Linked DNA regions of Homo sapiens: all the other regions are linked to region 4. Evidence: fine-mapped expression QTL. A gene starts in region 4. Each other region holds a variant in brackets. All regions are shown on one strand. Distances are between the middles of the regions. Region 1 overlaps PARP11 (poly(ADP-ribose) polymerase family member 11). Region 2 holds the start of PARP11 (poly(ADP-ribose) polymerase family member 11). Region 3 overlaps CRACR2A (calcium release activated channel regulator 2A). Region 4 holds the start of CRACR2A (calcium release activated channel regulator 2A). Region 5 overlaps CRACR2A (calcium release activated channel regulator 2A).

The links.
Region 1: its variant is fine-mapped to the expression of CRACR2A in whole blood (INTERVAL, PIP above 0.99).
Region 2: its variant is fine-mapped to the expression of CRACR2A in whole blood (INTERVAL, PIP above 0.99).
Region 3: its variant is fine-mapped to the expression of CRACR2A in whole blood (TOPMed, PIP above 0.99).
Region 5: its variant is fine-mapped to the expression of CRACR2A in whole blood (TOPMed, PIP above 0.99).

The regions. Positions count from the first base shown.
Region 1 is chr12:3,832,112-3,838,053 of GRCh38, forward strand. The region is part of intron 1 of PARP11 (poly(ADP-ribose) polymerase family member 11); the gene reads right to left. Among named protein-coding and RNA genes, the nearest start is that of PARP11-AS1, 35 kb to the right of the region's middle. The variant G/A (reference allele first, on the strand shown) is at 3,498.
Region 2 is chr12:3,868,475-3,874,416 of GRCh38, forward strand. PARP11 (poly(ADP-ribose) polymerase family member 11) reads right to left here and starts at 4,925. Exons shown (of 8, transcript NM_020367.6): 1 at 4,738-4,925. The coding sequence starts at 4,755. PARP11-AS1 (PARP11 antisense RNA 1) reads left to right here and starts at 1,698. Exons shown (of 2, transcript NR_183432.1): 1 at 1,698-3,482. RefSeq lists a silencer at 4,593-4,702 and enhancers at 5,374-5,894, 5,895-5,942. The variant T/G (reference allele first, on the strand shown) is at 2,449.
Region 3 is chr12:3,726,529-3,732,470 of GRCh38, forward strand. All of the region lies in intron 2 of CRACR2A (calcium release activated channel regulator 2A), which reads right to left. Among named protein-coding and RNA genes, the nearest start is that of CRACR2A, 24 kb to the right of the region's middle. RefSeq lists a silencer at 2,309-2,408. The variant C/T (reference allele first, on the strand shown) is at 2,977.
Region 4 is chr12:3,750,247-3,756,044 of GRCh38, forward strand. It overlaps CRACR2A (calcium release activated channel regulator 2A), which reads right to left and starts at 2,863. Exons shown (of 20, transcript NM_001144958.2): 1 at 2,769-2,863. RefSeq lists a silencer at 2,598-3,097.
Region 5 is chr12:3,679,396-3,685,337 of GRCh38, forward strand. CRACR2A (calcium release activated channel regulator 2A) reads right to left here. Exons shown (of 20, transcript NM_001144958.2): 5 at 843-954. Among named protein-coding and RNA genes, the nearest start is that of CRACR2A, 71 kb to the right of the region's middle. The variant C/T (reference allele first, on the strand shown) is at 2,812.

The sequences.
Region 1 (5,942 bases), 82 kb after region 4:
ACCTAAGACTTCGCTTTAGGCCAGGTTATAAATGAAAGTGTTTCAGCAACATCCTTTCAGAGCTTTCTGTTATAAATCGCTTTGGGTGGGACAGGTACCATTGTATTGAACATTCCTAAAGCACTTCAAATCTTATACAATTCCTTATCAAATTACACTATTTTTTTCGTCCACAATCCAATGTGCAGGAGAGATAAGTGATTATTTTCCAATTAAAGTCAGGAAAAAAACCGAAGCAGAGAATAATACAATTTTTTGTCTAGATTCACAGCTAGCAGTACAGAGAATATTAAAGCAACACCTAAGGCCTCCTGAACATCACTTCTTCCCCTAAGTTACCAAGCCCCACTGTCTCCTTTTCACACATGGACAGTTATTTCTCCTCTCCTATGTTGCTAACATTTAGTTTAATTGCTTTGCTTCACAGATGCTCTGGGTTTCTTTAAAAAGATGCATTTTATAAGATTAAACATTTCCATTTTCTACAGTAAGTTTTCTCTCCAAAGAAATGACTATTTTGCATAATTATGCTCAAAGAGTTAAGTCAAATTTAAATTAATAACTTTAAAATATCGCAACCATAGTAAGAATGGCTCTAGGCTAGGACACATTTATAGGTAATAAAAAGAATATTCACCAGTTATCGGTTATGAAGCAGGTATTTAATAATGTTAGATGAATGAACTTGTTCAGTCACAATGCCATATCCTGTCTGATTTTCCTGTTTGTAATTAGAAGCAGGCTGGGAAGAAGAAAAAGCTAGTACAAAGCGGCAAAGCATTTTGTAAAGTTTCAAGGGCAATGGGTATGCTGGTAGAGCCTGTCCGTAATGTTATCTGTTACAAAGAGAATCTTTATTTACAGAGCCTGGGAACAGTCAGTCTGAATCATCAAATTGAAAAGCTGTGTGGAAAATGAGTTTAAAGTCAAAATCCTGGTCTATATAAGGAAAATAAGGCTGCCTTCCAGACTGGTTTCAAGTTTTCTGATATAAATTTTAGTTTACTACAACAAAGTATAATTTATTTTGTTAGCATGAGTATAGTATCTTCAGGAAATCATATTTGGTAATAACAACTTCCTTGCCTCTACATATAAAGAAGATCTCAAACCTGATCTTAAAAGCTTAAAAATGAACGAGAACTTCCAGAATGACAGAATAAGGAGCTCAGTGGAACTGGCAAAACTACATTTTAAAAACTAGTAGGCCGGGCGTGGTAGCTCACACCTGTTATCCCAGGGCTTTGGTGAGGCTGAGAAGGGAGGTTTGCATGAGGCCAGGAGTTTGAGGCAAGCCTGGCAACACAGTGAGACTCCATCTCTACAAAAAAATAAAATAAAAATTACTCAGGCATGCTGATGCATGCTTATAGTCCTAGCCCCTTGAGAGGCTGAGATGGAAGGATTACTTGAGCCTAGGAGTTTGAGGCTGCAGTGAGCTAACATCACGCCACTGCACTCCAGCTTGACACGGCAGAACCCTGCCTCACAAAAATTAATTAATTAAAAATTAAAAACTGCTGAAAATTTTTTTAAAAAACAAACATTTAAAGTCTCTGGAAACTGTACTAAGGGCATACAAAAAGTGGAGAAACATTCATTCAAGAAAATGTACTCAATCTCAGAACAAGTCAGAGTCTGTGGCGTTTGAGTTACAAACTGCACCATTCCCCACATCCTACCAGGTCTGTATTATGAAGCCTCTACCTGCGGTATATGTACCCAAAAGACAGGCAGAGGGCTCCCTCTCCCTCAGGCTTCCAGTCTGTGGCTAGTTTTACCCCGGGAAGGGCAGGCTGCTGGTGTTTCTCCTCTCCTTCAGCCCAGAGGTGTAGAAGCTCTGTTCTGGAGAGGTGACACAGAGGACCCGTCTCTCTTTCCCTACACAGCCCCCATTCAAAAGGTAGAATTTCTATTCCAGGTACAGCAGGCTGCAAATACTGGGCCCTGACTGCCACCGCCCCAACTTCCTCCCAGAGTAGAGGTTTTGTGCCAGGAGCAGTCAGCTAAGAAGACCAAGGGCTGCTACCAGCACTCCACTGCCCACTCTAAGAATGGAGTGTTACTCTGGGGAAAAAAGACTCTCACCTTCAGCCCCAGGAGCAGTGGCATGGAGACTTTGCTCAGGGGTAAAGACGAGCCATAAGGACAAAGAGCTCTACATTTCCATCTGAGAGGACTGACTTTATTTGGAACAGAGAGCAGAACCCCATGCCTAAGGGCATTATCAAAAACAGTGGGCCGGGTGTGGTGGTTCATGCCTGTGATCCCAGCACTTTGGGAGGCCAAGATGGGCAGATCACCTGAGGCCAGGAGTTTGAGACCAGCCTGGCCAACATGGTGAAACCCCAACTCTACAAAAAATACAAAACATTAGCCAGGTGTGGTGGCGTGCACCTGTAGTTCCAGCTACTCAGGAGGCCGAGAGAAGAGAACTGATTGAACCCAGGAGGCAAAGGTTTCAGTGAGCCAAGATCACACCATTGCACTCCAGCCTGGGCGACAAGAGCGACACTCCATCTCAAAAAAAAAAAAAAAAAGAAAGAAAGAAAACAGTGGAAATATTAATGAAAAACAATTAAGAAAGGCTAGGAGCTCCAATATAAGCAGAAAGGCAGAGCAAGCAGAAGTTTAATGCAGAGAACCAGAGACAGCCAAGAAGAGCCCTCTTAGATCAGAGAGGAGTCAGAAAGGCAGTATAAAAACACTAGGCTGTGTACACCCAGGAATGATCAGGGCAGAACGTGGGGCAGTCTTGAAAACGTTCTCTAAGCTATACACGTACCCACTGACAGAGCGGAGAAACTTCATTGGCACAAGGGTCTGAATCACCACCTCTGGCCAAACACGACGTAACAGAAGCTACTCTGACCCAGGGGTAATTCCTATGAAGCCAGGGTTAAATGAAACAGCACTGTCATCCCTGACAGTCTGGAACACTGTGTACATGCTCAAGGTTGGGCCCTCTCAGGAACTAACTTCCAAGCTTCTAGCACCTGGCTAAATGCAGGACAAAAAAAAATGTAAACTCCCTGAACTATAATAGCAGCCACCAAGCCACACACACATTTAACACTTAAGGGTAAAAATCTACCTACCTCAGGGAATGTAAGCACAACCTGTGACCAGTACATAGTCTATGCCAATCCAGAAATGCCACATAAGTAGTCAGGTTAAGAGGGGAAAAGTCTGAGCTGGGATATCAGAAGCTACACACTGTGAGGAAAATGGACTTTACAGAATTTGTTCAGCTATATCACTGTTATATACACATAAACCAATAACCAAACAAACAACCACAATAGGGATCAGTATCCAGAGTTGCTATGTTACTTAAAATATCCAGTTCTCAACAAAAAAATTATGAGACATAAAAAAACTTCATAAAGATGTGATCAATACACATAGAAAACCAAAAGAAGCTGCCTCTAGATGAGGCACAGGTGGTAGACTGGGCAAACAAACACTTCAAAGCAATTATTACAAATATGCTCAAA[G/A]ACATAAATGAAACTTTGCTTAACAGGTTAAGGGAAATTATGATGACAATGTCTCATCAAATAAATAATATCAATAAAGAGAGAAATAATTTAAGATAATCAAATGGAAATTCTGGAGTTGAAAAGTATAGTAAGTAAAATGAAACACTCTAGAAAGGCTCAGTGGTAGATTTGTGAACAAGAAAATATCAGCAAACTTGAACATAAATTAATAGACATTATGTAACAGATGAAATGCAAGAAAGGAAAGAAAAAATTGCAGAAAAATAAACAGAGCATTAGAGAAATGTGGGATACCATTAAGTGCACCAACATATAAATAACTACAGTATCAGAAGCGGAGGAGAGAGAAAAAGGCACAGGAAAAACTTTAAAGAAAGTAAAACTATCCAAATTTGTAAATTTTATATATATATACACACACACATATATATATATACACACACTCACACACATATATATGTGTGTGTATAGATATAAATCTACACATCCAAGAAGCTCAATAAATTCCAAAAGGGAAAAACACAGAGATCCAAATGCAGACACATCAAAGTCAAAATTTCGAAAGCCAAAGACAAACAGAAAATCTTAAAATCAGCAAGAGAAAAACAACTGATCACATATAAGAGAATCCTAATGAGATTAACAGCTGACTTTTCTCATCAGAAACCCTAGAGGCCAAAAGTTAGGAGACATCATTCTCAAAATACATAAAGTAAAAAACAAACAAAAAAAAAGCGCCTATCAACCAAGAATCTTATACTAGCAAAACTATCTTTCAAAAATGAAGGTGAAATAAAGATATTGCCACAATTACAAAAACTGAGAGAATTCACTGCTAGCAAACTTGCTTTACAAGAAATAATAAAGGAAGTTTATCAGGCTGAAATGATACTAGGCATTCGTAATAATCCATGGGGGATAAAAAAGAAAAGAGCGCTGGTAAAAGGTATAATTGCTGATTTCTCCTTTCCTCTCTTGACTGATTTACAAGTAACTACATAAACCAATACATGAACTGCCAGTTCCAAGATGGTGGCACAGAAGAAAGCTGGCTTTGCTCCCTGCCCCCACAGAAAACCAAAAACAAATACACAGCACCAAGATTATCGCCAGCAATATCCCAGAATGCAAATATTATGTAGGGAGAGACAGTTCCCAGGGACACAGAGGAATGAAAAAACTCTGAGCAGACAGTAACGGAATTGGATTTCCTCACCCACGATGCCTCACCACAAAATCAGCCCAGCATCAAGCATACAGAAAACTTTCCCCTGATTCATGATTTCTACACTGGAAAAAGTGAGATTAAGGTGGCCAACCAGCTTTCCCACCATCTTGGGTTCCCTGACAGAAGACCTGTCCCTACCTCAATCTACAGGAAGCACTGGGAGTACCTGAAGGGAGAACTATCCCTGAAAACAGCCAGAGACAAAGGAGTCAAGTAGGACTACAATCCCTAACCCTGGAAACTGCTCTGTAACTCAATCAAAGGAGACGACACCAAATCAGAGTGGCTATTCAGCAACACCACATTGTAGGAGCTTCACTCCACAGGTTTCCCAGGCACAAACTCCAAGTCAGCCTTCCCGCACTGCCAGGATAACCTCTCTGGTACCTCTCCCACTCAGCATGGGCAGTGTCCTAATTATTTACTAGAGCTGAGAAAAACCTGAGCGTAAGGCACCATCTAGTGCTTAAAAGGAGGCAGGCCTAGTGGGTAAAAAAAGATACTCAACAGCTAAATTACAAAGATCTCTAATCTCTCTATAGTACAACTTGTTGAATCTACAAGATGTGTTTGTAAGTCTTGCGGTAACCATAATGCAAAAACCTATAATAGACCCACTAAAAATAAAAACTAATGAGTTAAAACATACGACCAGAGAAAATCACTTAACCAGAAAGGAAGATGTAAGAAAGGAAGAGAGCAGTTACAAAACAACCAGAAAATAAGCAACAAAATGAACTAGTAAGGACGACTTTATAAATAATAACCCTGAATGCAAATGGACTCGCTTCTCGAATTAAAGAGCACAGAGTGGCTGAATGGCGAAGAAAAAAAAAAACCAAGATCCAAATATATACTACCTACAAGAAACCGACCTCACCTATAAAGACACACATGAGGATGAAAGTGAAGGCATAAAGATGTTCCACGCAATTGGAAAACAAAGAAGAGCAAAGAGTAGCTATATTTATAAAGAGATAAAATAGACTATGAACAAGTCCTGTAAAAAGAGATAAAGAAGGTCAATAAATAATGATAATGGGGTCAACGAAGCAAGTGGACATAATTATAAATATCTATGCACTCAACACCCAAGATCTTAAGTATATAAAACAAACATTAATAGACTTAAAGTGAGGGGTAGACTGCAATACAGCAAAAGTAAGAAACTTAAAAAAATAATAAAAAGGGACTTCCAGCCAGAAAATCAACAA
Region 2 (5,942 bases), 120 kb after region 4:
ATTTCCAGCCCAGCCTTCTTCTCTGAGCTCCAGACTTACCTCCCTAACCAACTGCCTTCCAAACTTTACTACCTGATGCTTCATAGGCACATTAAACATAGTGAGTCCAGAACCAAACTCCTGTTATCTTCCATATGGCTCAGTGAAAACATCTTATTCCTGGCTGCCCATGCCAGAAAGCTAAGTCATCATCTAAGATGCAGCTTGAATTGATCTCCTCTCTCCCCACTTAGTAGTCACCTTCATAGGTGACTTCATACTTTCCCCACATAGTCCAAGTCACCTTCGTCTCTACCCTGGACTACACTATAACCTCCTAATTAGTCTTCCTACAGCCCCTTATCCCCCTCAGTATTTTCTTTTGCTGCTAGAACAAATTACCACAAACGCAGTGGCTTAAAAACAACACTAATTTATTTTCTTACATTTCTGAAGAAATCTTACATGCATCTCAATGGGCTAAAATCAAGGTGAGTTTGATTCCCTTCTAAAGGTTGTATGAGAGAATCTATTTCCGTGGTTTTTCAAGCTTCTAGAAGCTACCCACATACCTTGGCTTGTGACCTCCTTCCTTCATCTCCAAAGTCAGCCATGTTGTATCTCTTTGACCATTCTTCCATAGTCACTCCATGTCTTTTGTCCCCATGTTCTACTTTTAAGGACCCTTGCGATTACTTTGGGGCCCCCCTGGATAATCCAAGGTAATCTCTTTATCTTAAGGTCAGCTGATTAGCTAATTACCTCCCTTTTGCCATGTAACAACATATTTACAGATTCTGGGTATTAATATGTGGATATCTTTAGGAGGCCATTATTACGTCTACCATATTTTCTAATACATAAACTCATTTTCCACACATCAGCCAGAGTAATCTTTTTAAAAACATAAATATGTTCATGACACTTCCTTCAATGTGTTACCACTCCTCTAAGGATAAAGTTCAAAATCCTAAACATGTGCCTCAAATCCATGCATGGCCTGGTTCCTACCTCCTGGGCTTGTCTTCTGGTGCACTGTGTCCCAGCCACATAGGCTTCTCTCTTTTTCTCAAGCACCAAGCTCCTTTCTTTCTCAGGATCTTTGCTCACACTATCTCTGCTGTCTGAACAGCTCTCCCCACCTTCCAGCCAACCTTTACCTGGCTAACGCTTGCTCAATCCTTCAGATCTCTATAAAAGTTACTTTCACAGGGTGGCCTTTCCTGATTGCCCAGTCTAGTATTAGCTCCCCCTACACTGTCATAGTACTCTTTTTCTTTCATATCTTTTTATCACAATTTAAATTAAATGTATTTGCATAATTATTTGTTTAATATCTGCCTGCCTGCACCAGACTGCAAACCCATAAAGGCTGGAGCCTAGTCTGTTCTGTTCACCACTGTAAACCCTGGGACTTCGCACTAACTAGCTTATAACAGGTGCTCAATAAATAAGTGAGTGACATTACATGTTATTATATGACCAGCAGGCAGGTAGAGTATATGCAGTGTGGATATGCTGGACAAAGGGATGATTCGTGGCCCCAGGCAGGATGGAGCACAATGGCATGAGATTTTATCACACTACACAGTACAGTATGCAACTTAAAAGTTATTAATTGTTCATTTCTGGAATTTTCCATTTCATATTTTCAGACCGCAGCTGACTTCTGGTAAGTGAAATTGTGGTAAGTGAAACCAGGAAAGCGAAACTAAAATAAACTAACAAATTACTAGAGAAACCCACACGTAGAATGTTGATTTTTAAAACCAAATTGCGCTTACTGATATCATTCATATGCTTATAGGAAGAAAAACTATTAGTAGTAATAAAATACAGTAGCAGTAAGACAAATATGTCTTATTTGGGTGGCAAAAGAAGAATGTGAGATGATCTGTGGAGGATTCCCCACTTTTAACAAAAGTCAGCCTGCTCTGCTGAAATTAGCAAAATCACACAGGTGATTTCAAAGAAAACCCATTGCTTACAAAGAAATGAGATAATGATATAACAAATCAAGTATATAAGACATTCATTAATGCCTTTATAATTCTCACAAACACACAAATAATCCAACAGCAAATTCTGATGTATGTGTGACGCAGGAGGGAAAATTCATAGTAGGAGCAAAGAATTATCTTTAGTCCTTGCTGGTACAACCACCATCATGAATTCAACAAATATTTATTGAGTGCCTACTATGTGTCAGGTTCTGTTCTCTAGTTGAAGATACTATAGGAAAAATAACAGAGAAAAACCCCTGTCCTTGTGGATCTTACAATATAGTGAAAGATTTAAAACCTTGAGTAAGACATATACTTGGGTGGCTAAAGGGTTTGTTATGGAAAAATTAAGAAGGACTGATAACAAAAAGGGAATAATAGCTACATAAAGATATAAATACAAAATGAAGGTTGTTGATGACAGATAGTGAAACTGAATATATAAGCAGAGAGCACATTCTCATTA[T/G]TCTAAATTATTTTTGCTAAAATCAAATACAAGTAATTACTTTCCTCTAATGCAGCTTGAAGAGAGTATTATACGTATGAATCGAAAATACTAAGATGATGACTATTGTTATATGATGCACAAGAAGGAACCATAATGTGCAACTACCAAATCCAGACCAACAGACTAGTTTCTACTGGATAAAAACTTAACTTAAAAACATAGGGAAATGTACTGATAAACTTTCTAACTTATCTGGAAATATATTCCAGAAATGAGAGGGGAAGAATACTGATTATAGGAAATTATTGCAAATATGGAAATTAGGGGTTATTAAAGTAAATTTATGCAGTTATCTCAGCATAGGAGTAGTTTCTTATGTTTCATACACAATTATGCATTGCATAAAAGCTTTCAGTCAACCATGGATCGCATATACAAGTGGTCCCAAAGATTGTTAACACTTTATTTTACTGTATCTTTTCTATGTTTAGATACATAAATACTTTCCATTGTGTTACGAATGCCTACAGTATTCAGTACAATACTATGCTGTACAGATTTCTAGGTTAAGAGCAATAGGCTATTCCATATAGCCTTAGGTGTGTAGCAGGCTTATGAAAGTACACTCTATGACGTTGGCACAATGAAAAAAATCACCCAGCAATGAACTTCTCAGAACATATCCCCATTGTTAGGAGGCGCACGACTGTATTTAGTCCAACAACTTGCTGAAATGTGATTCTACCATTTTTCCAGTCAACTCCTAAGTTTTAAATACCATACATCTGCCACCTTACCAGGCAGTTTCAACCATAACAACAGAAGAATACTCTTGGCAAATAGATCCCACTCTCTGAGGGTTGTGTTGGGGCTCAGAAAATACTACCCCGAAGTATGACACTTTGGCATGCTGAATACTTTGAACTAAAAGAGATTGGAAGGCCTCAGAAGCAGCCTCGGAAGCAGTCTCTCCCTCTGATCTCCTGCCCTTCTGTCTCCTGCCCATCTTTCGTCCCAGAAGTGAGTCACAGAAACCAGAATTCTTCCCCAAGGTGAGTGATAGAAACTAGGATCCCTCTCCTACAAAGCAAGCCATAAAAACTGGAACTATTAAGCTTTCCCTGCCATTGTCTATAGGAACTGGCCATAAAGAAATTCTCTAATCTACCTTGCCTGATAGTAGGTCGCTAAGACCCTCATTCCAGAAGGGACCTTCCTCCTCCGTAGGAGGAAGAAATGATACACAGAGAGGCCAAGAAGAATCTGAACAAACAGACCTTGCTGGGCTTCCTTCCTCAGTTTATTAACATTAGAGTATATCCTTTGTCCAGTCACATTTTTACACAGTTGTCTATTCTTCATGGGTCCTACGCATAAAAATAGAGATCTCCCTGGTCTCTGAAGTGCCTGGTGGTGTAAAACTTTGATTAGATTTGCTCTGCTTTTACCTTGTTAACCTATCTTCTGTTTTAAGGAGTGGTGGCTGTGATCCTTACAATGGGTGGTGAGGAAAGGTACTAAAGTTTTCGGCCCCTACGTTGCACTTTAAATAAATAAATGTATAAAAGCAAAGTAGACAAAGACACATGAAGTCATAATGAAAATACCAGAGTCAGCCAAGGAAGAAGGCAGACTTGCAGTTGAAATGCTCCAGATCACTTTGTCCACCGAACGAAAACATCTAAGAACATACAGTCCATACTCCAAGTTTTAAACGACTGTCCACCAAGAAGGGAAAAGGAGAACTGATGGCTCCTCTTAGGCCCATTCAAGACAAGGGGGTCCCAATTCCCTTGCTTTAGACTGGTGGGACTGGCAGGTAAACCTGAGGCAAATGACTGACTACAGGTTCCAAGGCCAGTTACTCCAATTAGAAAGCAAAACACAAAGTTTCAAAAAACAGTGAAGGCAGTCGGGAGGCTGAGGCACGACAATCGCTTTAACCCGGGAGACGGAGGTTGCGGTGGGCCGAGATCACGCCACTGCACTCCAGCCTGGACAACAGTGCGAGACTCCGTCTCAAAAACAACAACAACAACAAATGGTGAAGGGATGAGGCTGAAACATCACGGGAAGTAAAATAAATAATTGTAACAAGAAAACAATAAAGCATTGGAGAATCCACCCAGGCACTTCCACTGCTTAAAAAGGTACAGACTACAGAAGCCAAAAGGCCCGGGAACTCCGGTCCCGGAACTCAACACCCAGACTGAAGCGAGCGCGGGGAAGCAGTTCCGGTGACCCCCTCCCGCCCCTCTCTCATCAACCCCGCCCCCTGGGCCCGCCCCGTCCCGCCCGGCTACTCACTGGATTCGCTTCCCACATAACGGTGACAAAATCGAGCGGAGAGAGCCTGTGGGAAGGGGCTAGCCGCGGGGCCTGGGTGTTGGATTTTTTTTTTTCCCGCGGGTCCCCGGGAGCGAAGGGACGGAGATGCAACCTTTACGAAGGCCTTCCTCCTCCCCCTCCCTGTCACAAGCCAGCGTTTACAGACCACCCAACCTCCCGACTTCCGCCCGACGTTGGCCAGTCAGATCTGTCTCCGCCCCACTCCTACAAGCTCGCCCCGCCCCTGCACGCTTATCCATACGCGCGCGGGCGGTCGTCCTGGGCGGGGCTTGCGAGTCTGTGTCTGACGAAGGAGTTTAAAGGGTTTCTGGTCCAACTGTATCACCCAGTGATCTTAAAGCCACGGCTGGCTGTATTTCTTTCCTATGAAACAAATTTTTATTGATCACCGTGTAACGACCAAGAGTCACACAGGCCTGGCAATGGCATTTGGGAGAAACTTCATAATCTTTCAATATCTTCATCCTCAAAATGGAGATGGTAGTAATATCTCCCTATGAGTGAGATTATTGAAAGCATTTAGCACAGTATTTGGCACACAGAGTTCAATAAGTGACGGTTATTTGCTCACAAGGGAACCTTTACATACTATCCCTGCCCTCAAGATTTTATAATCTAGAAAAGAAAGCAAAAAGTAGTTTAGAAAAGTTAAAAAGTGCAATATGATTTATAGGTAATATGGTGAATAGAGAGTGCTATGCGAGCATATTTACCTAGAGTAGAGTGTCAGGAAAGCTCCCTCAAGATGTTTAAAACCATGAGGATGTATTCCTACTGATGTAAAGAGAGCTAACAGAGTGAAATAATCTTCCATGCAACAAAGGATCTACCCCATAGGAAATGAAAATTAAACAGCTCATTATAGATCCTTCTGGACTTTTCTATGCCTCTACACATTGAAAAAAATGTAATCAAAGAATACCTATAGATTTAGAACCTGATTTTTTTTTCACTTTAAAGATTATGTGGCTATCCTTCCATTCCATTAAGTTTAAATCTGTTTCATCATTTTATTTATTTATTTAGGCAGAACCTCGCTCTGTCGCCCAGGCTGGAGCGCAGTGGCGCCATTTTGGCTCACTGCAACCTCCGCCTCCCGAGTTCAAGCGATTCCCGTGCCTCAGGCTCCTGAGTAGCTGGGATTACAGATGTGCGCCACCACG
Region 3 (5,942 bases), 24 kb before region 4:
GAATAAAGAAGTGTTACAATGAGTTACCCCCCTTTCCTGGCCGTATATGATAACAGGAAGAAGGAAATAACCTTCACTGAGGTACAGATAACAAGCCAAATCAAATTACAAATGTGCAAGCAGAGGAAACAAGGAAGCACAGGATCCTGTCTCGTGAGCTCAGTCTTACGTATAAGTGTAGCGTCATGATAATTTATTACGCTGTGATATGGGGCAGGATAGTGACAAAGTGTCACAGAAAACATGTTTCCAGTCTGGAAATCCCACCCACTGTGTTGAGGCATATATTCGGTCTTTAGCAGTAAAGAAAAAAAAAAGAAAGAAAAGAAAGAAAGAAAAAAAAAAGTGGCTGGGCGTGGTGGCTCACACTTGCAATCCCAGCACTTTGGGAGGCCAATGCGGGTGGATCACAAGGTCAAGAGATTGAGACCATCCTGGCCAACATGGTGAAACCCCGTCTCTACTAAAAATACAAAAATTAGCCGGGCGTGGTGGCACACCCTGTAGTCCCAGCTACTCGGGAGGCTAAGGTGGGAGAATTCCTTGAACCCGGGAGGCAGAGGTTGCAGTGACCTGAGATCGCACCACTGCACTCCAGCCTGGCAACAGAGTGAGACTCTGTCTCAAAAAAAAAAAAAAAAAAAAGCTTTTAAAATGACATCCTTATAGTATGGGCGGTGAGAAGAAGAGGATGGATTGGGAAAAGTTGTTGGGTAAATCTTGAAGGAGAATATCAGAGTAAGAAGGAAGAACAAAAGGCAACCCCAAAGAAGTAACCATGATAGCTAATTTTTGCAAGAGATTTCTTATCATTGTACTACAAATATAAATATATGTGATAAGAATATTATTTTTAAAACAGCTTTTATAAACAAGTTTGAGGCGCCTCTGCTAATTTAAACTAGTATCTAATTCTACATCGGCTGGATGAAGTCTCAGATTTCCTGTTACAGACCTGCGCATGGGTTCCTTGCTTTGCGGTCACTGCATATTGTACTGTGCCCTTTTCAGTTCAGTGTATATTTGGAAATGCTCTGATCTAGACAGAATGCATGAAGCAGGGAGATCATCTCGTCATTTCGAGGTTTTGTCTTTATTCCATTTAGGCTTCTCTTCCTAAAACAACCATTTCCTAAATACCGGGCTTTTGGCTTAACTTCTTTGAAAGTGTGAGAGGCATTACTCTAGGGGACAGCCTGACCCCATTAGAAACACTCGCCAAACAAGGGCTGAAAAACTACCTATTGCATACTATGTTCGTTATTTGGGTGATGGGTTAATTAGAACCCCAAACCTCGGCATTATGCAATATCTCCATGTAACAGACTTGCAGGTGTACCTCCTGAATCTAAAAAAAAAATAAAATAAAATAAGGAATACTGATCAAGTGTAACCTCATTCATTTCTGTAATGAGGAAACAGGCCCAAGAGGGTAGGCCAACTGTAAATTTTGCTCTCCTTCCTGTCACTAAGTTCCTTGAGGGCAAGGAGGGTATGGGATACTTCTTTTGTATCTGCACACAGCTGCCAGCACAGAGCAGCACACATACCTGTCTGTGGCCCTAGACGTGCCTGCTGTCTGTATTCCATCAGGACTCTGGAGTCTCCTTTTCAACCTGAAAACCACTCGTTTCTAATTACTCATCCATAGGAAACACAGGCAACGGATCCCCAGAAGTCACTTGGGACTGAGTTTCAACACTTTTGTTTCACACAGTTTCAGCACTCACACCAGCTGCAGCTGAAGACCATAGCACTTCAATGAAAAGCAACTGACTCCCTCCCCAACCCCTCTGCCCGTAGGCTGCTGTGGTTAGCACTGCACTCAGAGAAAGAATAAATAAAAAGCAAAAGCCCCAGTTGTTCTAAGATAACCACAGAGATGACAGATGCTGTTGCATGCAAACTTGCGGGAGAAGAGAGATAAACAGCACATTACAAATCCAACAAAGCATGGTGACGAGAAGCCTTGGCGGGCAAGTCCCGTTGCTGAGGTGTGACTTCAGAGATCAAGTGGAATGTGCCCTCTTGGTCCCATCCTCCCCTCACCCCTGCACTCTTCCTCTTTCAGCTGGCTGGGTTTAGAATTTCTTCAGTAGGGAAGAGGATTTTGCCCCGCTGGAAGAATGCTAACTCTCAGGATGAGTGATACTTTGGGAGACCCCCAGCCCCCAGCTTACAGGATAAACAAATGGCCAGGAATGAGAAAAGCTGAGGTGGAGCAGCAAAGGGAGGGAGGGTTCCTTTGGCCCACCTTTCAACCCCGAGTGGCCTCCAGAGAGCTGCCAGTTGTGGTCATGTTCATCCTGGGCTGCGGGCAGAAGGATGGCTCAATACCTTAGCTCATAGCCACCACTTCTGGGTCCCACTTCCTTCCTTCATCAAGTAGTGTAAAATGACGAGGACCCAAGACAGCTGGAAGCCACTCGCCTTGTTGTCCATGGTTGCTCCATGGCGTATTTGTCTCTTTTGTCACATTCTGGACACAACCCAACGCATCCATGTCACCAATACCACATGTAGCTGGTGGCACTGCAGCTTTCTGTTGACCTGCCTGAACTAGCCTCCAGGCACCAGGCTTGTCACTCACACCGAGCGCAGTGCCTGGCATTCAGAAGGTGCTCAATACATGTTCTTGGATTGAAAGAGCAAAAGGGCAGGGGAGCCAATTCCACTCTATGAAATGGGAAAAGCTGTCAAGGAACAGCCGTCACGTTAGTTATGAGACCACAGACGCATTGTCACCCACCTTTTTTGCAGTATGTAGCCATCTGGCCCATTTTCAGAGCTGCTCTTATCTTTGTCACGACTATCATCTCCACAGCATCAGTAATGACAGACTTAGAAGGTGAGAGGCTTAACTGTAAACCACTCCTTATTTAAAAAGACTTTGGGGCCGGGTAAGCTGGCTCATGCATGTAATTCCAGCACTTTGGGAGGACGAGGCAGGCAGGTCATGAGGTCAAGAGATCAAGA[C/T]CATCCTGGCCAATATAGTGAAACCCCATCTGTACTAAAAATACAAAAGTTAGCTGGATGTGGTGGTGTGCACCTGTAGTCGCAGCTACTTGGGAGGCTGAGGCAGAAGAATCACCTGAACCCGGGAGGCAGAGGTTGCAGTGAGCCAAGATTGCATCACTGCATTCCAGCCTGGGTGACAGAGCGAGACTCTGTCTCAAGAAAAAACAAAAAGACTTTGGGAGCAGCATGATAGATTGGCTAAAATGTCAGGTTCTAGTGACAGAAAAACCTGGGTTCTGATCCTAGTTCTTCTGTGTGCGAGTTATGAGTCTTGGTGAAGCCACTTCACTCTGCTACTGTTTCCTTGTCTGGAAAAGTGAGCTAGTGCTACCACTGCCTTGGGGGGTCTGCTGAGAGAATCCATGTAATGGAGCAACACTTCTGACTGTCTTGTATTTCATTTTTATTGCTGGTCTCCATGCAATTACTCAGATAGTGCACAAAAGCAAGAAGAGAGCAGAGTTCTTTCCCTTCCACTTTTCAGCTCCCGAGATGAAAGCCTGGACATGGCAAGGCAGGGGCTGCAATCTCAAGCATACAGAAGATTAACAGAAATGGGCCGAGTGGGCAGGGGCCGATGAAGAAGAATCGCTTTCATATTAAGTCTGCCCTCCTCCCTCTGCTGGAAAAAGACAGCCTCCTTGGTTTTCAGTTTCCCCCTTGAAGAGACATGAGTACATGAGTGATTTCCCTTCCTCCTTAATACTCTATGAGAGAAACAGCACAATGTTGCTAGATGGCAGTCAACGCTCAGGCTGAACGCAAGAGGGTCAGCAAGAGGTGGTGGGGAAGATGCCAGAGCGGGGCAGGGAGGTCTCTTTAAAAGGACAGCTGCTACCCAACCCAACCAGTTGTCCACATACTAGAACTGAGTGTTTCCAGTTCTGTTGATTATTCAAAGATTTTTCAGAATTTTTAAATGTTACACACGTTCAGGGTCAACATGAAATGGCAGGTTTATTCCGTGCAGTGTTTCTTGTAATATTAACAGCAAATGACTAAAAACAACCTGTGTTCATCAGTAGGGGATTGCTAAATTATGGTAAATCCATACAATGGGATACTATGCCCCTGTAAAAAAAGAATGAGGAAGCTCTCCACATACTGAGAGGGAAAGATCACCAAGATAAATCGAGTGAAAAAGGCAAGGTTAAAAATAGTGTGTAGAGTCTGTTATAATTATGTAAGAAGTAGAGGGATGAGGCAGATATATATTTGTACTGACTTTTATCTGCAAAAAGAAATCCTGGAAGGTTGTATAGGAAACTAATAAAAGTGGTTACAAGGGAGGGGCAGGGCAGGACTGGCCAATGGAGGCAGGGATAAGATTTCGCCGAATACCTTTCTATAGCGCTTTAATTTTTGAACCACACAAATGTATTGCTTATTTGAAAAATAATACAAAAACACTGTATACACCAGCTACTGGGAAGAAAACACATCTACAGGCTACGAACAGCCTGCAGGCTTCTGGGTTGCACCTTCACATTAAGGGCTCCAAAACTGGAGAGGCAGAAAAGTTGGCAGCATTGGATCCAAGCTTTACTAGGTGTGGAGACAAGTAGGTTGTTCAGTATCTGGTGTCTGGAACTCTCTCTGGATTGCCTGGCAATGAGCTAGTTGGGCCCAGCAGCCTCCGCCACCTCCAGGGGGAAAGTGATGCACTCCCAGCCTCTCTGGAAGAGACTGCTCCAAAACTCAACTTCCCGGGAAACTGAGGAGCTCCAGGGTCACCAGGTGCTGGGCAGACAGAATTTCCTGCCATTCCTCGATAGTTAAGGCTGCCTGGAACCCCAGTGGTGTGTTCCCCCCATCAAGGCTCTGTCCCACTTGTCCCATACAAAGGAGAGCGATAGGTGAGTGCAGTTCCTCCTCTGGAGCACAGCATCCAATGTGTCCAGCTGGGCCCCAGCTCAGCACACCTCTCTAGTGAATGCTGAGAACAGAGGACATGCTCCCCTGCTGACACTGCTGCCAGTCACTTTCAGGCAGCACCATGGAACACCATTCATATTCACCCCGGCCCTTTGTATGTCCCTAGTCTTGTCACTGTGAATGAGCTCACTTAGTGTGGCAGCTTGAACTGTGATCTCCACATTGAAGTCCTAACCCCTAGTACCTCAGAATGTGACCTTCTTTGGAAACGGGGTTGCTGAAGATGTAATGAGTTAAGATGAGGTCATACTGGAGTAGGGCGGTTCCTAATATGGCTGGTGTCCTTATAAAAATGGGAAAATTTGGAAACACACACACACAGGGAGAATGCCATGTGATGATAAAGGCAGGGATTGGAGTGACGCAGCTGCAAGCCAAGGAAGACCACAGTCGGCCGGCAAATCGTCAGAAGCCAGGGCGAGGCAAGGAGGGGCCTCCTATACACCACAGAGGGGTCAGGCCCTGCTGATACCTTGGTTGCAGACCTCTCGCCTCTAGAACTGGGAGACCTGACATTTCTGTTAATCACCCAGTTGGTGGCACTTTGTTAAGGCAGCCCTAGGAAACTCATACACTCAGCAACCTCAGGCCAACTCGGGTGGCAAAAGTACCCGCCATTGCTCCTTCTCAGCAGGTGCCCAACAGATACTGGTGACAACACTGCTCCTATGAATGAAGATCCCAGGACCTGGCCCGGTCAAGTGTATTGTGTCGGAATGCATCAAATAGTCAACCAATAAACAATGGCTGAGTACCCGACCTTGTGAAGAATGCAAAAGACATAAAATATTCCATTACTACCCTCAAGGAGTTGACAATCTGATTGAAGATTCAAGAAAGACATGTGTAATAATGGCCAAATTAGTATTATCTTCCCCCAGCCCTCACCCACGACCAGCAGATGCCACAGAAGTCACTCTTAACTAAATTGCACTGTGCTCCCAGCTGGATTCAACCTTCTACTGCATCTCATTTCGCTGCTCCCTGCA
Region 4 (5,798 bases):
TTACAGGAAACCCTGGAGGCTCCTCTGCAAGACAGCGGCCTCCATGTGTGTCAGTGCAGAAAGCAAAACCTCTGGAGCCCAAGGGCCTGGACCCATTTCTGCCACTCACTAACAGCTGACAAAGGACCATGATTTCGCAAAGACTCAGTTTCTCCATCCGTAAAATAGGGCAGACTTGTCTCTAGAACACCGTGATTCTATGACATTGTAAGAGGCCGTGGACCTGCTCTTAAGATCCTGAATTCTGCAATATTCTGCAATATTTGGCAATTACATCTTTTAGCTCTTCTCTAGGGGAAACATACGAGGGAAACAGGGCCTTGGAAAATATAAAATCTGAACTAATTCTCACCTAAGGTATCATGGCAAGTGCCTGAGTCCTCTGTGCATTGCAACAAAATAGACACTATTTTGTGTGGAAGAAAAGCAAGAGAGAGATGTGAACTCAGTGGGTGATTAGCCTGTCCCTGAGGAATCCCTCACTAGCTCTCCCCTAGCTTCTCTCAGCTGCATTGCCAGTACCCAGGCAGCCTGCAGATTCAACCCTCCCTCCCCACAACAGGTTCAGCAAACCATTGCAACAAGGAGCCCCAAGGCAGAATGGATGGCTACTGCGGCCACTGCCCCAGTGCTGGGGCCTGCCTTCTGCAGGCTCACCACAGCGTGACGCATCTCCAATCACCCCCCACACCTGGGGTTCCATCTCTGTCAGTGGCATCACCAGCCACTCTAACTCTGGAATCCAAATCGCCATCATCTTGGTCTCTTCTGCTCTGGTCCCTGACATTTATTCAGTTACCAGATTGCATCTACTCCATTGTTCTCTGGGTTAAAATCCCCATCCCACCACTTATTTTCTGTATGACCTTGGATAAACCACCTAACCTCTCTCTCAGTTTCCTCCTCTACAATATGGAACAATCATAGCAATCTCCTCATGAGGTTGTCAGGAGGATTAAATGAGATTAAACATGAAAATCTCCTACCACAGGCCCTGGCACATGGCAGATGACTTTTCCCCTACCCCCAAGCCTTTTAGCCCCTTCCTGTCCATTCCCACCAGCCCTGTTCAACCCCTCATGGTGACTGCAATGGGCTTCTTCCCAGGTTCTCTTCCCACAGCTTCCTCCACTGCAGTACATCCCATACCCAGGTGCAGATGACATGTTCTTCTGAACCCAGCTCCAGGAACAACACTTCCCTTCTTAGAAACCATCAAAATATCCCTAGGCTTAATAATGAAGTTTCTAGACTCGTAACACTCCAAGCCTCTGCCATCTCTCCCAGGCAGCACTCCTCACCGGATTGTCCACTACATTACTCCTTGCTCCTCAGGTACAACCCACCTTCACGGCTTTGCTCAGCCGTCCTTCCCCAAGATGCCCAGACCCAGCCTCCTATTCAAGGCCCGGCCTCAGTGCCACATCCAGGACGCCCTCTGCGAGTCACTCCTTCCAGAAGTAACCTCCCTCCTCCAAACTCCCTCTACACACTTTATAGTATAGAACCGAGAGGTGACAGGACCTCGGAAGCCGTACCTGAAGCCTCTCACTTATAGAACCGAGAGGTGACAGGACCTCGGAAGCCATACCTGAAGCCTCTCACTTATCACTTAAAAACTGCGCATGAAGTAGCTCTTATGGGCAAATACTAAACCATGAGGTTGTACATATTCATTTCACCTGAAAAGGGGCATGAACTCTGGACCCTTCAACAAAAATGCTGATTCCACGTGGAGCAAACTGCTCTGATTTCATATCCCTATGCCCACATCCTTGATAAAAAGACTCTTCGGTACATGCTGCTTTCTTCCAGAGACAAGGAACCCATCACCTCATGAGTTAGGTTCTTCCTCCTGACCCTCTGACCACCCTGGGGACTCCCACGGATTGGCTCTTTCTGTCCTCTTGAGTCACACAGAACGAATTCCTTTGAGACTCCTGGTGTCCTCCACAGAGCCAAACAGGGCAGGTTCCTAAGCACACTGTGTAAACAGATAAATGAACTCAGAGGGCTTTCCCACGTGGCAGGGTACATTCGCTGCATCCCGTGCATGCATGGGTGCACAGACACACACTCGCACACACACGGACACACACACACACACACGGACACACACACACAGACACACACACACACGGACACACACACACACGGACAGAGTCAGCACAACGCCTCTGAGCCACACAGCCAGGCCAGCACACGCGGGGGCCAGGGCGGAAGCCAAGCCCCAGCAGCCGCCCACTTCCTGACCTCCTTCCTTTGCTCTGGGAGGTTCTCTCTCTGTGTCTTTCTGACTGTCTGTCTCGGTTCTTTGTTTCTCGGCATGGCAACAGTTGTGGATGCTGCCTGCGTGGCCAGGGCTCCTAGTAGCACTGACCTGCAAGGTAGGAGTTTTGGTTCTTAGACTTGAGACCTTGGGCAAGTCACTTTACCATTCTGAGCCTCAGTTTCCTCATCTGTGAAATGAAGAGGCTGGATGAGGCTGGAGGGTTCCTAAGGTCCTTTCCTGACCAAAACCCTAGTGCTTCTCGGCTCTCCTCCAGTCCCGTTACCGAGTGACAGGGAGGGGAGCAAGGGCCAGGCCAGGCCTGGGGGTGGCAGGGGAGCCAGCTGTTCCCCCCCAAGGGCACACAGCCTCCATCCAGGCCCTCTGCGAGTTCCATGTGCGGCAGACACGCGCTCACACTTCGCAGCCGGAGGAGCAGGCAGGAAGCGCCGCCCCCCGGCCGCCCCGGCCGCCCACCCTCAACCTTCCTCCACGTTACCTTGGGCGTGTAGGCTTCCCGTGGACCTGCCCGCGCCGCCCGCTCGGCTCTCAGCTGTCAAGCAGCCGCCTGCTCCGCCCGACTCTTTCCGCTCCGAGCCGCGCGGGCTGGACCAGCCCCTCAGCGGAGCTGAACGGGAAGCGGCGCCCCCTGGACGCCCTCCGGGACGTGCGCGCGCCAAGCGGTGGGGTCCGGGCCTGCAGGCGCGACCTGAGGCCGCCAGGGAGGCTGGGTGGCGAGGGCGGGGCGGCTGCCGACTTAGCCGGCCTGACTGGTCGGGCTTCCGGGGTCCCGCTGCTCCCTAGGCCCCTTGCCCCGATTCAGGCTCCCAAGGTGGGGCATCAGTCCGGCCCTCGCTGGCTCACTGGAGAGGTGGTGTCTGGGAGTGCACCCCCGAAAACCCGGCAGCAGCCCGGCGTCACTCCGGCTGTTACCTCTGGGAGCAGAAACTAAAGGGGATCCTTATTCTTTATACTTTTCTGACTCTTCTATATATTCTACTGTGGGCATGAATCGTTAAAAACAAAACAAAACACCAAAAACCCAATACGTATTTGTTAATAAAGCACTGAGTAAATCTTCAAAGGCCTCCCGAGGTGCTCCGGCTGCAGGATAACCCCTCAGCTTAGCGCACAAGGCAAGGCCCACCCTGCCCTCTCCGGCCACAACCTAATTTTCCAGCCTCACCCTCTCTCCCTCACACACACACAACACTTTCGCTCTGGACACACTAGCTGTTGCCAAACACCAGCTGTTCTTCATGGCTGCTGGGAGTTCTTCTTTTTGCCTGGAACACCCTCCCCTTTCATCTCTGCCTGTTGAAATCCTACTCATCCATCCAGGCCCCTCTGAAATGTCACCTTTTTGGAGAACCCTTCCCCAGACACTGCCCCTGCAGAGTGCCCCAGTTCTTTCCTGGCAAGCCCATCTTTCTGGTACTGGTTTATGTAGTAGCATCCCCCTCTCACACGCGCTAAGTCCTATTCCAAGGTGGAGAGAAACAAATTAGCACTTACTGAGCAGCTGTTATAAATTACTCTGTGGAGTCCTTTCTTCTCCTTGCAGCCCAGCCAGCCACTAGCCCACAACCTCCCTCCACCCTGCCAGAGTTTCAGAAGGCTGTCAGGGGCTCTGAGGCCTGCCCTCTGGTGTGTCCCTACTGCGTGCCTTGGCTTTTCTGGCTCTGTCCTGGGTATGCTTCCCTGTGTCAACTCCCAAGGTCTGCAAGCTGGTGGCTTGACCTTCTCTCAGCCTTATGTGAGGAAAGAAGGACATTTCATTATCAGAATCTGAGAAGTGGAAGGGGCCTCAGAGATTATCCAGTGTAAAGCCTGCCCACCCATTTTACAGAGCAGAAAACTGTGACCAGAGAGATAAGGTCAGAGGCATCGGAGGTACCTACCATTGTTATTGTTGTTTTTAATAGTGTTAATACTTGCACGTTTAGATCGCCTTTCACTTCTAAATCAATGCGTTGTCATTCATTTGCCCCTTACAGTCTCAGAGGTATTACAGTGGTTAGTGCACAGACTCTGGAGGCCAAAGCCCTGGGTTTGAATCTCAGTGCTCCAACTTGCCAGCTACGTCCTTGGCAAGTTACTGGAACTTTCTCCATCAGTACAATGTGGATAGTAACAGCTCCTGCATCATGGGGTGTTCTATGAATCGAAATAAATGTGTATCTTTAAAGGGCTTAGAATAGTAGTAGGTTCATTAAAAATGCCAAATGTATTTGCTCTTATCAAATTTTTGTTATTGTTAATTGTATCACTTCACAGTTGGAATAACAGAGGCTCAGAAAGGCTGAGACTCATCCAAAAAATTGCTGCTTTGAGGATGGTTTCTCACCAAACTCCATGCAGTCATCTTTGTCTCTGATGCCATTCTGCTTCCTGTTCCCTTGTGTCTGAGTCTAACCACCTATTTAATAGGGAAGAAAAGCAACTGTCCTTTAGCCCACCTCAGAACACCTAGACATTTCATGTTGCAAACATTAACCACATCTTCTGGCTTCTATGGGGATGTCTCTAATTTGCTGGCGTTTTCTTTAACAGAACACCACGCCTCATGGTGCCCTTCAGAATCACAGAGCCATCACATTAACTGCTGCAAGTTCAGCTTGTACATTCGTGCCTCTTTTACTCTTGGCCCGTGGCAGAAAAGCGACAGGGAAAAGATGGTTCTTCCAATGTATGGATGTAGGAAACTGAGGCACAGTTGATACTCACTGATTGGCCCCAGGCTATGGAGCTAGCCTGGACCATGGGAAGGATGAGGATCTCCACCTCCTCTTTCCCCATGATTACATGATTCAGTGTTGCAGGAGAAACCCAAACTCGTTTATTCAATGAGGATTTATTGAGCTCTCTCTAGGTGACGAATAAGACCGAGGCAAGGCTGGCTTCCTGGGCATATGACCTATGAAGTCACATAGGCCAGAGGTCCCCAACCTTTTTGGAACCAGGAACCTGTTTCGTGGAAGACAATTTTTCCATGGACCAGGGGTGGGAGTGGGGGGTGGGAATGGTTTCAGGATAAAACTGTTCCACCTCAGATCATCAGGCATTAGTTAGATTCTCATAAGGAGTGTGCAAACTAGATCCCTCACATGCACAGTTCTCAATAGGGTTCACGGACCAGTACCCCATTACCGGTTTGTGGCCTGGGGTTGGGGACCCCTGACATAGGCCACTCACTTAGAAGGGCTTCATACAGAGTTTAATGCTGTCCTGCCACCTTCTTGAAATCTTAACAATTTTTGAACAAGGGGCCATATAAGTTGTATTTTACACTGGACCATTCAAGTTGTACAGCTGGTCTGGACCTAGGCTCTTCCCTAGGAGCTCTGTTTCACAGGGAATCAGCCAGGGAGTTGACAACTGCAGTTCAGTACGATGGGGGTTGTGACAGAAGCAGGGTAGCCGTGAAAGAAGAACAGGACCTTGGCCAGTATTCAGCTCACTTGGGTCATCCTCCCCAGCTGTGCAACCTGCCCAGCTGCCAATGACTTACCACTGTGCTCCTTGGTGG
Region 5 (5,942 bases), 71 kb before region 4:
CCGTTGATTTCTTCTTTAAGCAACAAGGCCTTTCCCTGCACTGCATTCCAGCACCCTGACTGCAGAGGCTCCTATTGTCATCCTAGTCATCCTCCCGCTAGCATCACTAGACTTCACATCTACAAGCTCCTTAACAGTTTCCAGTGTACTTCCTCCATACTCATACTGTCCAGTGTTACAGCAGTCTGTCTTATCCTCCCAAGTCAATTAGAAGCTCCTGAAGGTCAGGAAAGGCATCAGATACTTACAAGAAAATTATATGGCCCCACACATAAGGCAGATATATGGCTTTTGATGTATCTGATAGGATAGTGTGTCTGGTTTCTTTATATTGTTCATAGATCTCGATTCTTCTTCCTCCTGGTTACCTTGAGAATGTCTAGTCTGTTCAAACCTTCTAGAAATTCCTCTGATAGCTGTTATCCCTCAACCTGGAAAATTCAGCCAGACTTGGGTTGGAATGAGCCATCCAGTTGTCCCACCTTTTGGCCATTTTTCTATGAAGGCAGAAAAGGAGAGGCTGCAAATCTCATCACAGCTCCCCCTTTTATGCTATGGCTTCTGCAGAGCTTCCGTCCATCTCCCTTGCCAGTCCCAGTGGGAGGGAGCTTGGTAATGGCAGTGCAGTGGGCACTGAGCAAGCGGCAATGTAAGCAGTTGAGACGGGCATGTGAGGAGGCCCAAGCAATCTAGAGCCTGGAGACCTTGAGCTCCAGGTCCCTGAAAGGAGGGCAGGAAAGCTTTACTACCTGCCCCCCAGGTCTACAAGGGACAGGAATGCACCTTATACAGTGTTAGGTAGACCCATAACCCTGAGGTCCCCAGCACCCATCAGAACTTACTAAATCCAGTAGTGAACTCCTGTGGGGTCAGATAGCCATTGCCATCAGCATCCAGGGCATCAAACACATCCTCCAGTTCCTCCAGGCTGAGCGGTAGCTCCTTATGCAGCCTCTGAAAACAACCCAGAGTGTACTGGTTAACACTGACACTCACTGGTGGGGGAGGTGACCTGGGACTGCAGAGCCTTCTGCCAGAAAGTGTCTAGAGTTCGGCCCAGTCCTACAAAAGCCAGTAGAAAGCTTCTGCATCCAGACTGCTTCACCATCCCTCTCCTCCTTTGCATGTTAGCACAACTACCATTGATTGGGTGCCTACGAATGTACTAGGCCATTTGCTAGGTGATTTATAAATAAACAAATATGTAAATATGCATTTATTTATCTATCTGCATTTAATTCCCATGACAACACTCTGAGCTAGGCACTATTATCTCTGTTTTACAGATGAAGTTTGAGGTGAAATTACCTGCTCCAAAGTCACATGGCTAGTAATGACATAGCCAGGAGTCAAATCCAGCTCTGATTCCAAAGCCAGCACTCTCAACATCTGTAAAGGACTCAAACTGTACAGGACCAAATACTTTCAGGATAATACTCACACAGCATGGTGCTGTAAAGTTGAATGCAATCATGAATGTAAAGCATATAACAGTGCCTGCATACAGAAAGCATTCAATATAAAGTAGTAGGGAGGCAGAGAGAGAGAGAGACTCATGGCCCACTGAGGCCCCTCAAGGAAGTACGTGGCAGAGCCAGGCTTCAAACCCTGTCTTCCCTGCTCTCCCTAAGCCCCCTTTCCTCTCCCGTACCACGATGCGGGTGCGGGTCACTTACTTGAGGCCTCTCCTGCTGGAGGCCCCTGGTGTCCCATTGCCTCAGCACTGCATTTGTAAGTGTCTGTGGACACACATTTTGGTGCTTGAGCTCTGAGGGGATATGGGATAATCCCCCTTCCTACCTCTGAGTGACCCACACCCAGGCCCCGAGTCCAGGTTCCACTCCAGCTCCCTGCTGACTGGTAAGGAATTCCTAATAAGATCTCAACTGCCATTGGCTTAAGGTATCAAGGCCCCAAGAGTATTTGTGTGTTAAAGGGGGACTGGACAAGATAGTGTGAGGAGGTTATCGCTGGATTTGAGTCTAGAGCAGACTCAGACCTCATAAGGAGGGAAGGGCAGAGAACAATTAATAGGCCCAAGAGCAAAGCAGCTGAGCTGTTGCTGCTCCCTTCTGGCCTTCTGCCCGATGTGCAATGGCCCCAAGCCAAGGCTAACTTGCATAGATGAAGCAAGTGTACCCTCATACCCAAATAATCTAGGTCTCCAAATGAGAACTCCCCAGAGAGTTATATCTCAGCCGATCCTCTCCCTTCCTCCCAGTTACCTAAGCGGTAACCGTGCGAAATTGCCAGTGTGGAAGTGACTGACAGCTGAAAACAATGAATGCGGGGCTTTGTAAGAAGAAAGGTATATACCAACCTCAACAATAAAAAAGAGCTGGCAGGTGTGAAAGCCCATAACATAATTGGCAAGAATACTTGGCTTGATCCTATGGCAGTTCTAGCTGATAAGCCATAAAGCTTAATTTGGCAGGTACATGCATTAAGGGAGACTATGATGCATTATAAAGTGGGAAGACAGGCTGATGTGGAAGCCATTTAGAAGAATTGAATTAAATATGAATGGGCTTTTCAGAAAAGGAAGGAGAGTGAGAGAGAGTGTGCAAAGATTCTGGAAGTATATCTGCTTAGCATTCAGCAGAATCTCTGACTTATCAACAATCCATAAACCAGCTGTCTCAAAAGCTACAGTAGGAGAACACGGGTGAGGAGAGAGTCAATTTTGCAAGCAGGGATTTTATTAGCATCATTGGAAATAAGAAGCATCACACCTGAGGTAGGGTAAAAGCGCAAGCTCCTGTCACGCTCACATTCCAGTCCTTCCTTTGGATTATCCTTCCTCCTTCCCCA[C/T]CCTCAGACTAGGATTGCTGGATCTGATTCAAAATGTGGTCTCTCGCACTGGGCTGGAGCAAGAAATGAGCTGCAAGAAAATTCCAGAGATCAACGGGACCCTCAACATGCCTTTCACTCAAACACCCCACACACTTTTCTCATGTTAGCATGAACCAGGAGAGGCTAGTTCACAGCTCACCTTAGGCACCATTCCTGAATCCAGCAGCACTTCGAACCCCAAATCCCCCTGTTGTCTAATCCCAGTTCTTGTCTACATCTCAAGTCAGTTTCCTCCTCCCATTGTCAGCAAAGATGGGGAAAGCAATATTATAGGTTCCAAGTAATTCTTACTACTCAAGTGCTGGCAAGTCAGCGCTGAGTGCTTCTTCAGCCTTCTCTGCAACTGATTCTATACCTGATTCTTCACTACACCTGATTCTTTCACCTTGTTTTGTTGGCCCTCCTTGAAAAATCTTTTAGTCTTAATAACCATAATTATCTCTTATTTATCGCTCTGCTCAGGGCCTACAGAGCCACAGAAAACCAGCTTATTCTGGTATGGTCCCCTGGTACTGTTTACATTATTTTTATTATTTTTATTATTACTTTTTTTTTTTTTGAGACAGAGTCTCGCTCTGTCACCCAGCAGAGTAATGTGATCTCAGCTCACTGCAACCTCCGCCTCCCGGGTTCAAGTGATTCTCCTGCCACAGCCTCCTGGGTAGCTGGGACTACAAACGCCCACCACCACACCCAGTTAATTTTTGTATTTTTAGTAGAGACAGGGTTTCACCATCTTGGCCAGGCTGGTCTTGAACTCCTGACCTTGTGATCCACCTGCCTTGGCCTCGCCTCCCAAAGTGCTGGGATTACAGGCTTGAGCCACTGGACCTGGCCTACATTTTTAACTAAGTGAGATAAGCAGGGTGGAGGGGAGCAAGATTATTTATTCCACTGTGCAATAGGCCTGTGAGGCTCTGAGATTAGCCTAAAGTCACAGTGCAGACCACAGCTGGGAAAAGAACTGATTTTCCATCCAGGGCTTGAGCAACTGTCTAATAGTTCTCCAGGGCATTCATTCTGTTATTCCCTCACCTTCATTACCTCCCACACCTACCCACCTACCAGCACCACCAAAATCAGAACACAAAGTCTCTCTTGCCAGCACCAAGACCCAGCCTTCCAGAGATCCTGTGGCACGCACAGCTTTTCACACACCTGGAAGGGTGGGCCAGGGAAAAAGAGAGGCATGAGGAGGAACTCAGCTTCCTATTCGTACTGCCCATGGCCCTGGGAGCTCTTGAGAACTCCTTGGCTCCTTTAAACACCAGCCTCACTCTTTCTTCACTCTCAGCTCCTGCGTCACTTCCTCCGTAAGGCCTTTGCACCTCCCCAGGTTAGGTCAGGTTATACAAGCTCCCCAAACTACCTTTCTCTCATTCATAAATCTTTCCCAATTAGCATTTTATATACTGATAGATGTGACTCATTGATGAACGTCTGCTCCCTCAGTGCTCTGAGAACAGGGACCTCATTCGTTAGGCACTGTTGTGTCCCCAGGATCTAGCCCAATGCTGACAAACATGGACTATTTAGATAAGTGTTGAAGGAAGGCATAGATAAGCGCTTGACTAAGAGCAATGGCAGGAGACCCTGAGCTCCTATGTACAGAGTGCTGGTCTAGACCTCACACACTCCAGAACCTGACCAGCCCAACTGCTAATTCTCAGCAAGACTCATAGTGACTGGCAACCTTCCAGAACCTAGAACATGAGGCATCTACAGCAGCAGTACTGAGAGTTCATGCCCCAGAGCCACGGGAAAGTGATGTCTTTTGTTGCACTCCAGCCAGGCTCCTTTACCTTCCTAGTCACCAGCCCAGTAACATACCCCATGTAGCTTAAAGTGTATGGTTGCACAGCTTCAAACATGCTTCCATGACATTTTTATTGAGGAAAAAATCAGAGGATATCCATTTTTTATGTCCAGAATTACACTGTCCCTCCTTTTGGGGCAATCACAGCATTCTTTTCAGACCCCCATTCCAGCACCAACCACCCTCTTCCCTGTGGTACAGTTCAGCTATACCAAATCTCTCTAGGACGAGAGTGGGAGGTGGGAGGGCAGGATCAACCTTTATCCTGCTTTGCACCTTGATGTGCTTGGCTTGGGCTGATTACGTGGTATAGGCCACAGTTTCTCAACCTTGGCACTACCGACATTTTGGAATGGACAATTTTTGGTTAAGGGGGTAGTGGAGGGGAAGGCAGGGGAGGGACCATCCTGTGTATTACAGGATATGTAGCAGCATCCCTAGCCTTTGCCTGCTAAACGCCAGCAGCACTTCCCTCACCAGTCGTTTCAATAAAAAATGCCTCCATACATTGTGTAAGGAATATGGCTGTGCTTTGGTCAAAGATAGACCGAGGTAGAATGTTTACATCCTGCGTGAGTCAGCAAGTTTAGAGTGCAGGCGTATAATTCCACTTGTTATCACAGCCATGTAGCCATAACATGAGAAGGCCATCACTTGGCTGTACACCACTATTGTCTGTAAAAGATATAATTGTCCTGTTGACACTGTGCAGGCATGCTTGCGCTTGTGCCCAGAGAAAGAGAGAGAGTCAGAGCTGCCTGTCATTGCAGACAGACTGCGGGGAGCCAGGACACATGCCCAAAGAAAGAATTAAGCTGCTGACCCTGAAGGCAAGGGAGAGCGGGCCACGCAGCTGTGTGTGGGAGCCGCCAGATTAAGTAGCCAAGACAGGGCGGACAGTGTGAGAAAGCTGTTGATGAAAGCTGCTGCTGAATAAAACCATATTCACCTGCCTACGGCCCCCTGAGTATTGTTTCTGCTCATCCACTCATTCCCTCCGGACCTCAGCATGGGCTGGAACCTATCCCCAAGCATGACAATTGGTGTAGTTGTGAACATGACACATTGCCATATGTCCTCCAGGAGGCAAAATTGCCGCCACTCATGTAGATTGGACACAAAGAATAACAGCAGCTGGATACGAGTGGAAGGTTCCCTTTTCAGCAGAAATGCCCGTTTCTTTTCTCTAAGACAGGACAGACAACTTGCACCTTAAAATTACAATGTGATGGTGCAGCTATTGTATAAAATGGTATGGTGTCTCCTCAAAAAA